4 separate regions of the Homo sapiens genome follow, and all the other regions are linked to region 2. The links come from fine-mapping of genetic effects on gene expression. A gene starts in region 2. Each other region holds a variant in brackets. All regions are shown on one strand. Distances are from middle to middle.

The links. PIP is the estimated chance that this variant, and not a neighbour inherited with it, causes the effect.
Region 1: its variant is fine-mapped to the expression of EPHA4 in whole blood (INTERVAL, PIP above 0.99).
Region 3: its variant is fine-mapped to the expression of EPHA4 in whole blood (INTERVAL, PIP 0.97).
Region 4: its variant is fine-mapped to the expression of EPHA4 in whole blood (TOPMed, PIP above 0.99).

Annotation. Positions count from the first base shown.
Region 1 is chr2:221,489,766-221,492,265 of GRCh38, reverse strand. The region is part of intron 4 of EPHA4 (EPH receptor A4); the gene reads left to right. Among named protein-coding and RNA genes, the nearest start is that of EPHA4, 81 kb to the left of the region's middle. The variant C/G (reference allele first, on the strand shown) is at 1,513.
Region 2 is chr2:221,570,794-221,573,526 of GRCh38, reverse strand. It overlaps EPHA4 (EPH receptor A4), which reads left to right and starts at 1,223. Exons shown (of 18, transcript NM_004438.5): 1 at 1,223-1,369. The coding sequence starts at 1,279. RefSeq lists silencers at 1-247, 848-1,267.
Region 3 is chr2:221,497,570-221,500,069 of GRCh38, reverse strand. The region is part of intron 4 of EPHA4 (EPH receptor A4); the gene reads left to right. Among named protein-coding and RNA genes, the nearest start is that of EPHA4, 73 kb to the left of the region's middle. The variant AAAAAAAAAAAAAAAAAG/G (reference allele first, on the strand shown) is at 1,263.
Region 4 is chr2:221,438,944-221,441,443 of GRCh38, reverse strand. All of the region lies in intron 11 of EPHA4 (EPH receptor A4), which reads left to right. Among named protein-coding and RNA genes, the nearest start is that of EPHA4, 130 kb to the left of the region's middle. The variant G/A (reference allele first, on the strand shown) is at 1,497.

The sequences.
Region 1 (2,500 bases), 81 kb after region 2:
ACACTAATATATGCCCAAGTGGAAGGCTTGAATAATCTGCCAATGCCATTTAGCCAGGTTATTACAATTTTTCTACCACCCTGAATAATTAAGAGTGGCTTGTCATTGACCGAGTCCTGTCATTTCTGGATGCCATTTTTGACACTATGCATGGAAGTCATACAGTGGTTATTCACAGCATGCTTCTATGAAACAAGGTTAATTACACATTTTTCTGAGATCCCCTGGGGTGAGAACGGGGTATCTTCTTTTTTTCTTTTTTTAAGACAGAGTCTCACTCTGTCTCCCAGTGGTGCAATCTCAGCTCACTGCAACTTCCACCTCCCAGCTCAAGCAGTTCTCCCACCTCAGCCTCCCAGGGTGCTAGGATTACAGAAACGAGCCACCACACTCAGCCCAGGGTATCTTCTTTGCTATCAACATTTAGATTTATGAGAGATTCTGCTATAGAGATATAATTGCCCCTCGCCCTATTCCTATGATCTTCCACCTAGAAAAAGAACCTTTAATAGAAACTCCTAGCCACTCTCTTGCACAGAAGGTAGGAACAAGGCAGAAAAGATAATCCCCATGAAAATGATAAAAGAGGATCATCTGGGAAGTAGTACTAGCTAGCCATCATCATCATGAAGGGCAGGGAAGTGAGGTGAAATTGAACTCTGGGGTGAACTGAGAAAGTTGGAAACTTTCTATCCAATTCTCAAAAAGAATTTGTAATTATGGGTTATTATTTTCTTTATATTATTTGTATCTCTATGAAAGGGAAGCAGGGTTGTTTAGCCTTGGAGTCAGGGTTTCTGATCACAGCTTTGCGCATGTTGGCTGTCTTAATTTTGGCAATTTGCTTAACTTATCTTAGTTTTTGGCGATCAGATTGTTGTGAACAATAAATACTTTTCTGTCAGATTTGATTGCAGCTGTTAAATAAGATACAAAAAAGTGCTTTGCAAGGAAAGTAAATTAATGCACAGGCTAGATAATTTTAAAAATGAAATACTCAATTCTACTTTTCTTGGTCTTTGGCGTGGTAGCTTTCTTGTGTATAACTGAGAATTTATAAGGCACTTCAGCCATAAACAAGTCATCCTAATAAAAAGAAACCAAACCCCTAATTAACCCAGTAAAAAAAAGACAAAGATCACTGGAGAGGAGAATGGGAAAGGAGATAGAACCAGAAAAATAGGTTATGGGAAAGTCTCACAACAAGAAATGAACCTCTATAGGAAGCCAAGAATTTTTCATGACAGCAGCAAGTGATTGATGCATCCAAAAGGTTCTGGTTTAATCATGGACAGCCCTGCTTGGCTGTCTTTGTTGTAAAAACACATAAACCACCATGATAAGAGGTTATGCACTGTTCATATATGTCAGGAGGGATGTCTTTAAAACAGCCATCTTTATGTAAACTAACCCACAGCAGATAGGACTGGGAGAAAGCAATTAGTGGTGGCAACATATACAAATGTCAGGGGAAGCATGGGCTTTATTTCAGAGTCAAAACGTAATGCATCC[C/G]AACTGTTGACTCTTCCTTATAACCTGTCTTTCAGCTGGAGAGAGATTAACAACAAAGGCTTATCTGAAGGGTTGAAGGGTTTTACAGCTAAGACGCTGAAGTGCTATTGACAGTCCAAAAGTTGTACATGATTAATGAAGCCTTAGGAAATGGAACTACAGACCCAAGGTGCTGCTTCCTCCAAGATATGTGTTGGACTGGTTGCCTTAGCATTTTAGTGAGGTGACAGCAGTGCTTAAATACATCGATCATGGGAGAGTTACCTTTCTGCCCATGCTCTTGGGGGATGCTCCATTTCCCATCCAGAATGAATTTCATAGCCCAGGCATTGAATTTTAAAATGGCGATTAAAAATCAGTTAAGTATTAGATGTCTGTGATAGCTCTGGAAACTACTCTATCACATGAGACCAGAGACTTTGGTTTTTCTATCAACTGTCTTCTTGCCTTGGTTGCAGACTTGATTTTCTTTCTTTCTTTTCTTTTTTTTTTTTTACATTTTAGCATGTGATTGCCATTTTTTCTCTCTTTATTATTATTATTATTATTTTGCTTAGCTTTTGTGACATACAAAAGTGCTATGGCAGTGGGTTTTTTTTTTTTTTTTTGAGACAGGGTCTCAATTCATCACTCAGGCTAGAGTACAGTGGCATGATCCCAGCTTATTGCAACCTCCACCTGCCAGGTTCAAGCAATCCTCCCACCTCAGCTTCCCAAGTAGCTGGGACTACAGGAACATGCCACTACACCTGGCTAATTTTTATAATTTTTGCAGGGACAGGGTTTCACCATGTTTCCCAGGCTGATCTTGAACTCTTAGGCTTGTCAAGCCTTCCACCTACCATGGCCTCCCAAAGTTCTGGGATTACAGTCATGAGCCACTGTGCTCAGCCATAGTGCTATGGTAGTGATGCTTCTGATTAGTGAGCTGGACTGGGCTAAAGCATCATCATTCATTCATTTGTTCATTTAGCAGATATTTATTGAG
Region 2 (2,733 bases):
AATCAGTGCCCCTGCCAGCGCCTGGGGAAATGCACCGAGTGGCGTTGGGGACCGGTCCCTGGGACACCGGCTGCGCTGCCTTCGCCGGACCGCTCTTAGGTGGCCGCGTCCACGGCTCGGGCATCGGGAAAAGACCACAGCCCGATGGTGCCAGTGCCCCCGGGGCCGGAGCAGCCGGGCGGGGCTCTGCGGGTCCTCCTGCTCGCCGTCTTCTCCCGGGGCAGGGAGGGCTGCCCCGGCTAGGTCGGAGCGGAGAGTCGCAGCAGCCGCTCCGGGCAGCTTCCCAGTCCCGGTCTGCCTTGTCTGTGCGGCTGCAAGTCCCCGCACCCACACTTAAGCCTTTCACTTCTACCCCACCGCTCCCAGACGGGCTAGGCCCGGTTCCAGGGACTGCCCCCAACCCTGCCCCCGGGAAATCCACAACTGGTTCCCTGCCCAAGGCCATCTCGGGGCGTCCTGGGCCCTGGGCGAGGTCCACGGCGTGTGCAGGGGGACGGGGCCAGCGGGGACTTCCTTACTGCTAGAAAGTCATTCGTTCAGTCTCTGGAGACAGTGACGGAGCCCTGCTGCGGACTGGACGTTGGGGACCAAGTAGGTCCCCGCTCTCCAGGCATCTGGGGAGCCAGGGAAGAAGCGAGTGATAGAGCCACAAAACTCCCCGCAAAGAGTATTTCAGAGGGGGAAGCGCCATAAAGACAAAACAGGGCAAGGTGGCAGAGGGTGGCGGTGGCAGGCGCGAGTCTGCAGCTCAGCCCGGGCGCGCTGGACGCAGACACGTCGACTCTCCTAAAGAAGCAACCGCAGGTCAGCTTAGACTTCTTTTATTTCAATAAAAGAGCGTTTTCCTCCATCTTAAACCGCCCGTGGTGGGAGAAAAGGTTTCCAACCTCTTCTCTGGCTCCCCTCGGTCAATTCCGAGCTTTTCCAAAGTCCCTCCGCCGTCCAGGGGCTCGACCTTCGAGGTAACGTGGGGGATCCCGCTGGCTCCCTCCGGCAGGCGGGGGCGGGGACCGGCCGTGCTCGCCCCCTAGAGCCCCGGGAGACCGCGCGCCCCGTGGAGCCCGGAGGGGGCGGAACCCTGGGGCGGGCCCTGCTCGGTGAAGGCGGGGCTCGGCCGCCCTGTCTGCGCCGCCATTGGCCGCGGGCCCCGGACTGGCGGGCTCACGTCACCGGCCGGGCCCGCCCCCTTGGCAATGTCTTCAGCCCGCTGCTCTCCTAACTTAAGCATTTATTCCACTGGGATAGAAGCGGCAGGAGCAGCGTTGGCACCGGCGAACCATGGCTGGGATTTTCTATTTCGCCCTATTTTCGTGTCTCTTCGGGATTTGCGACGCTGTCACAGGTTCCAGGGTATACCCCGCGAATGAAGGTAAGAGCGGGACGGCCTTTCTGTGGTCGGGGACAGCGAGGGGCCATCGCGGGTGAGGGGTCCTCAGGAGCGCAGGGCCAGGTGGTGCGGGGGGAGCCCAGTGTGAATGGTGCGTCCCGATTCGGGAGAAGGGGGCTGAGGCGAGGGGATCGGCGAAGGGGCAGCGGGGAACCGCCGGACAGCCTGCCCCGAGGCGGTGACCCGTGCACGCGGCGGGTCTGTCCAAGTTTGTAACCAAAGGCCAAAGTTTATCAGCATCCGCCAGAGAGGCCCGCTCGAGGCGCCCTGAGGGGATGCACGGGAGACAACGCCGGGATTTAAAAAAAAAATTACAAGAACCACGTCCTCTCCTGAGCCAGCCCGGGGCGAGGGGAAAACGCAGCCTGGAGCACAGTGAAGGCTTGGTGCTCCCGGATTCTAGCGAAAGCCTTTCGAGCTCTGGTTTCTGCAAAGTTTCCCGAGCCCTGCGCTTCTCGGGACCGGGCTGCGGGGCCTGCTCCGCAGCGCAGCGGTCGTGGCGCCGCTCGTCAGGCGCCAGTGACCTGATTTCTAGCACCCGGAGTCAGACACCTTTCTCCTCGCCAAGCCCAGCGCCCCGAGGGTGCGATTGCGGGCCTGAGGGGCCCGAGCTCTTCGCCCCGCAGACTTGGGGAACCCGCCGGCAAGTTGAACGCAGTCGAGTTTTAGCTTTTCGCCCCAGAATTGCACACAGTTTAGAGCTAACGTGCGGGGTCGACGGGACCCGTCTGGGTGCTCAGTTTTCTGTGCATCCGTTCGGACGTGCTGGGAGGATTGTATGTGCCTGTGTGTCTGTGTCGGGAGGTGGGGCGGGGCGGGGGGGCGGTGATCATTTAGTTTCTGAGAAACCCAGGGAGAGGCGAACTGTGTGTGTGTGTGTGTGTATGTGTGGTGTGTGTGTGCATGTCTGCGTGTGTGTGCATGTCTGCATGTGTGGTGTGTGTGCATGTCTGCGTGTGTGTGCATGTCTGCGTGTGTGTGCCTGTGTGTGTGCGCGCGCGTGCAACTGCGTGTATGTAGGTGCGCGAATGCCTGCGTGGAAGCGGACGCGGAGGATTGTATGTCTGTGCGCAGATGTCCTGAGTGTGTGCGCGTGTGTTCGAGTGTATGCTCGTGCTCTGTTCCAGCGTATGCTGGTGCTCTGGCCTGCGTGCATCTAGTCTCACATCCGTCTCTCATTCTTCTCCTTTCCGGCATCCATCTATCTATCCGTCCGTCCATCCGTCTATCTATCCATCCATGCATCCATCCATCTCTCCGTGCATCCGTCCGTCCGTCCATGCATCCATCCATAATGCATCCATCCATATATCTGTCCGTCCGTCCGTCCATCCATCCCTCCATCC
Region 3 (2,500 bases), 73 kb after region 2:
ATATTTTAGCTTTGGCCGGGAGCGGTGGCTCACGCCTGTAATCCCAGCACTTTGGGAGGCTGAGGTGGACGGATCACCTGAGGTCAGGAGTTCGAGACTAGCCTGGTCAACATGGTGAAACCCCGTCTCTACTAAAAATACAAAAATTAGCTGGCATGGTGGGTGGTGCCTATAATCCCAGCTGCTTGGGAGGCTGAGGCTGGAGAATCACTTGAACCCAGGAGGCAGAGGTTGCAGAGAGGCGAGATCGCACCATTACATTCCAGCCTGGGTGACAATAGCAAAACTCTGTCTCAAAAAAAAAAAAAAAAAATATATATATATATATATATATATATATATATATATATATATTAGTTTTAGTTATCATTATGACTATTATTATTTTGTTTCCTAACTACTATAAATGGTATTTTGGCCAATCTGGAGCTAACAACCCTGCAAATAAAAGGTTTTTGGGTATTTGAGCACTTTGGGCCACTGGGCAATCAAGTCCTGTCTTTAAAATGAGTGGAGTGAGTCTCCAGGTCTCTCTGACTTTATATTCAAATTGCTGTAACCTCCAGAGTTTCTTTCATAATGAGAGATAATAATGATGATGATGACAATTTTATAATTATGCCCAGGTAATGTATTAGGTACTTGAAAAAAATCTTAATACGTGGTTTATAAGAAATCTGTTAGGTAGGTATAATCTTTATTTTATAGAAAAGGTAACTGCAAGCTCAGAGATGTTAAGGAACATGCTCAAGATCACACCCTACCTTGGACAGAGTTGTACAACCTGAAGACTCACCTAGTTTCTATTTTATATTATTATTATATTTATATTATTATATTTATATTTTATATTATTTCTATTTTATATTATTCTATTATAGAGAATCTGGGAGATTCTCTTGCTGGCTCTCCCAAGTCAAGCATAAACATTCAGAGTTAGGGAGAATCCTAGGGTCAGTCTCAGATGTAACTGTTAAAAAGGTTAGATGCAGTAGCTCAGGCCTATAATCCCAGCACTTTGGGAGGCCGAGGCAGGCGGATTATTGAGGTCAGGAGTTCAAGACCAGCCTGGGCAACATAGCAAAACTCCGTCTCCACTAAAAATACAAAAATTAGACAGGCGTGGTGGTGTGAGCCTGTAATCCCAGCTGCTCAGGAGGCTGAAGCAAGAGAATTGCTTGAACCGGAAGGCAGAGGTTGCAGTGAGCCGAGATTGCACCACTGGACTCCACCCTAGATGACAGAGGAAACTCTGTCGTCTC[AAAAAAAAAAAAAAAAAG/G]AAAAAAAAAATAGCCAGGACTGGTGCCTTTCACCTGTGGTCCCAGCTACTTGGGAGGCTGAGGCAGGAGGATCACTTGAGCCTGGGAGGTCAAGGCTGCAGTGAGCTGCATTCACATCACTGCACTCCAGCCTGGGTGACAAAAAAAGACCCTGTCTTAGAAAAAAAAAAACGAAAACAGAAAAACTGTAAATAGGCAAGGATTGTTTTTGCTTTCTTTCTTTCCTGTTCCTCCATAGACTAAGAACTTTCTCTGCGTGGCCACTTTTGTTTGAACTCTTCAGTCCCAACCTTTTTCTTTTCCAATGTAAATATTTTCATGCTATGTTCCATTTGTGTGATTAGTTTAATAATAAACTCCCCATCTTTATCCACACCTGCTACCAACAATTTTCTTGTAGGAATCTGGGGCACAATAGTAAACTCAAGGGGAAGTGTTTGAGGCTGACATTTTGAGGATGGCCCTCAATTTGCATCATGTACTCCCCCACTTACTTTCCATGCAGATAAAGCCTTCTCTAGGTTGAGATTTGATTGTATTATGAGTGTCATGAAATGTATCTCTGATGGCAGGAGGTCCTGGCTCTTTCTCCCAGGTATTTTTCAGTCTCATGATGCTGACCTGTTTAGCATTTAAGGGGACCATGTGCCCATCACTTTATTACCAAGTCTTGCTACTTGGGAGTTTAGGAAACCTCCAAAGATGGCCATATGTCTGTGTTGCTGGAACATTTGATGTATGTGTAATAAGGCTGTGGTAGTTGAGCCCTTGGAATTGTATTTTTAACTGTTAGCTTTATCTTAAGGATGCAAAGGGGAAGAAGAGAAAATTTGATTTTAGCATATGGATGGACCAAAAAGTCTAAAAATTAAAGTAACATTTGCATGTTTCAGAAGTCATTTTCCACAAGGTGAAGGGAAGGAAGGCTGGTGGCTTTTTGTGTCATTGTTAAAAGGTCCATGAAAATACCTGCTCTTGGAACTCCTTCTCCTACACTTTACTACTTCAAGGTCTTGTGCATTACTTTACTTACTTATTTTTTCATTTTTTTTTTGAGATGGAGTCTCACTCTGTCACCCAGGCTGGAGTGCAGTGGTGTGATCTCGGCTCACTGCAACCTCCACCTCCCGGGTTTGTGATTCTCCTGCCTCAGCCTCCCGAGTAGCTGGGACTACAGGCGCCCACCACCACACCTGTTTTTGTTTTTGTTTTTAGTAGAG
Region 4 (2,500 bases), 130 kb after region 2:
AAGGAATAGGAAGATAATCTTCCCCTGGAGTTTGACTATTCCTAAGGTAATGCCCACGGTTTCCAGTGTTGAAGGTGGGGCCTTTGCAGGGAACCACCCTCTTCTACCCAGTATTTCCCTGCCGCCTGTCCATATCATTCCTAGTGAGCTACGATAGTACCACTGCACCCCAGTCCAGGTGACAGAGGCACCTGGACTCTATTTTTTTAATAGAAACCTGTCTCTACTTAAAAAAAAAAAAAAAAAGAAAAGAAAAGAAAAAATGAGACATTAGGCCTGGGGCAGGTGGCTAGTAGGACACAAAGTACAAAATCTTTAGGAAGAAGAAATGAGGTGGTTACTAAAATGGGAGAGAAAGTACACACTATACAGTTCAGGGGTCCTCAAACATAAGAATCTTCTGGAAAGCTTGTTAGGACAGTTTCTTGGGCCTCCTGCTCAGAGGTTTGATTCAGCAGGTGGTGTGCGGCCCGTAAGTTTGGAGTGCAAGAGAGCTCACCACAGGTGAAGCCAATGCTGCTGGTATGGGAATCACGCTTTGAGAACCATTGGCCTGGGGACAAACGACCGCATACCACCTCTGCTGCTTCTAAAGCTTGTGACCTTGGACTACTTGTTCAATCTTTCTCTTTCAGTTTTCTCATCTGTAAAATGGAGGTAAAAAGAGCATTTGCCTTATAAGGTTATTTTGGGGATGAAATAGAATACTTAGAGTGGTTACCACAATAGCAAATTTTTTCAGAAAAAACCTCGTACGTGTTCAGTGGTGCTATTATGTCTTAAGAAGTAGGTACATCTTTCCCCATCTTCAGAATCTTTCAAAAAAAAAAAAAAAGGAACCTTGGTGAGAAGGATATATAATTTTCCGCATAAGGTGAAGGCTATAATTAGCATAGAATAGCTCTATTTGCTTTTTGAGATTAGTTTTACAGACAGGATATTTTTCTGTTGCCTGTGGCCTTCAGGGCCGCCCAGAGCCCTTCACTACTTTAATTAAAAGATAACATTCCCTTTAAATACTTTTGCAGGTCCGTTTTCTAAAAAGGAGGCTCTGTTCAGCTTAGGGTGTTTTTCCTGTCGCAGACAGTGATTTTCCTAGCACCTCTGCAGAAGAGAGAAGAAACAGGGGATCTTTGTATTAAAGTCCCACCGCGCCTCTAAAACACGTAGCTATTACAGCTGTAACTGTTATAAACGACTGGATGCATTTGCATAATGCAGTTGTCACTGAATTAAAATGATTTAAAATTTCTATTGGAGAAGCTATTCCCTTCCCCCACCCCTTTCCTCCCCACTGCATCCCTGCCTACTGCAGGGAAGGAGACTCCTCTATCCAAGAGCCCAGCCCAGGCCTATTTTATAAGCCCCTTTGCTTATGGAGACATTCATCTTTGTTTCCCTTGTAGAGCTCATAAAGGATCTGACAAATGGATACTTTTAATAAACAGAAAATGGAATGCAGAAAATTTGTGAAGATGGTGCCAAGAGTCCGACTA[G/A]GGAGGTGTGAGGGTGAAAGGGTAGAGTGGAAGCGTGTGAATTCATTACCAGCAGTTACTTGAGTAACTTTTTAAATTGGCAGGAGGACCATAAATTCTCCGCATGACCCTCACTTTTGGATCCTCTCCTGTCGTCTCCACAGCTCCAGAGGGATCTGGTGAAATGCAAGGAGGTGTTAATGCACAGCCATGAGAGGCTGCCCTTTCTCGTTAGTTGACAAAGTATCTTTTGATTGAGGCAGGTTGATTAAAACTCATTTAGGCACATTTGTTCTGTCAGAAGACTATGGTCACAAGCTGGGCTCGGTGGCTAGTGCCTGGAATCCCAGCTACTCAAGAGGCTGAGGCAGGAGGATCCCTTGAGCCCAGGAGTTCAAGGCTGCAGTGAGTTATGATCATGTCACTGTACTCTAGCTTGGGCCACAGAGCCAGACCCTGTCTCTTAAAAAAAAAAAAGAAAAGAAAAGAAATTCACCCAGGCTTGAGTGCAGTGGCACGATCTTGGCTCACTGTAACCTCCGCCTCCTGGGCTCAAGTGATTCTCCTGTCTCAGCCTCCCGAGTAGCTGGGACTACAGGTGTGCACCACTGCATCCGGCAATTTTTTTTTTTTTTTTTGAGTAGAAAACCCTGGTCACATATGTAGAGGGTAAATGAATCTGAGAACTAAGCATTTCCTATTTGTATTGATAGAGAATGTGCAGACACACCCCTGCCAGCGTAGAGAAAAGACTTAAAAGTGGTTTTATGCACCTTTGGTCTGCACCAAGATTCCCACTTTTTCTACCAGCCTTCTTTCCTCACTTGAAAATAAAATGTCCATGGTACCATTTTCTAATGCAAAAGTGTTTGCCTCTGAGTAATTTCTTAGACACAACACCAAAAACTCAAGCAATCAAGAAATATCACAAATTGATATATTGGACTTCATGGAATTAAAAACCCACTCTTCAACACTTTTGCCCCTAAGGTGAAAAATTTCCCCATGCCCTATATGCCAGAAAT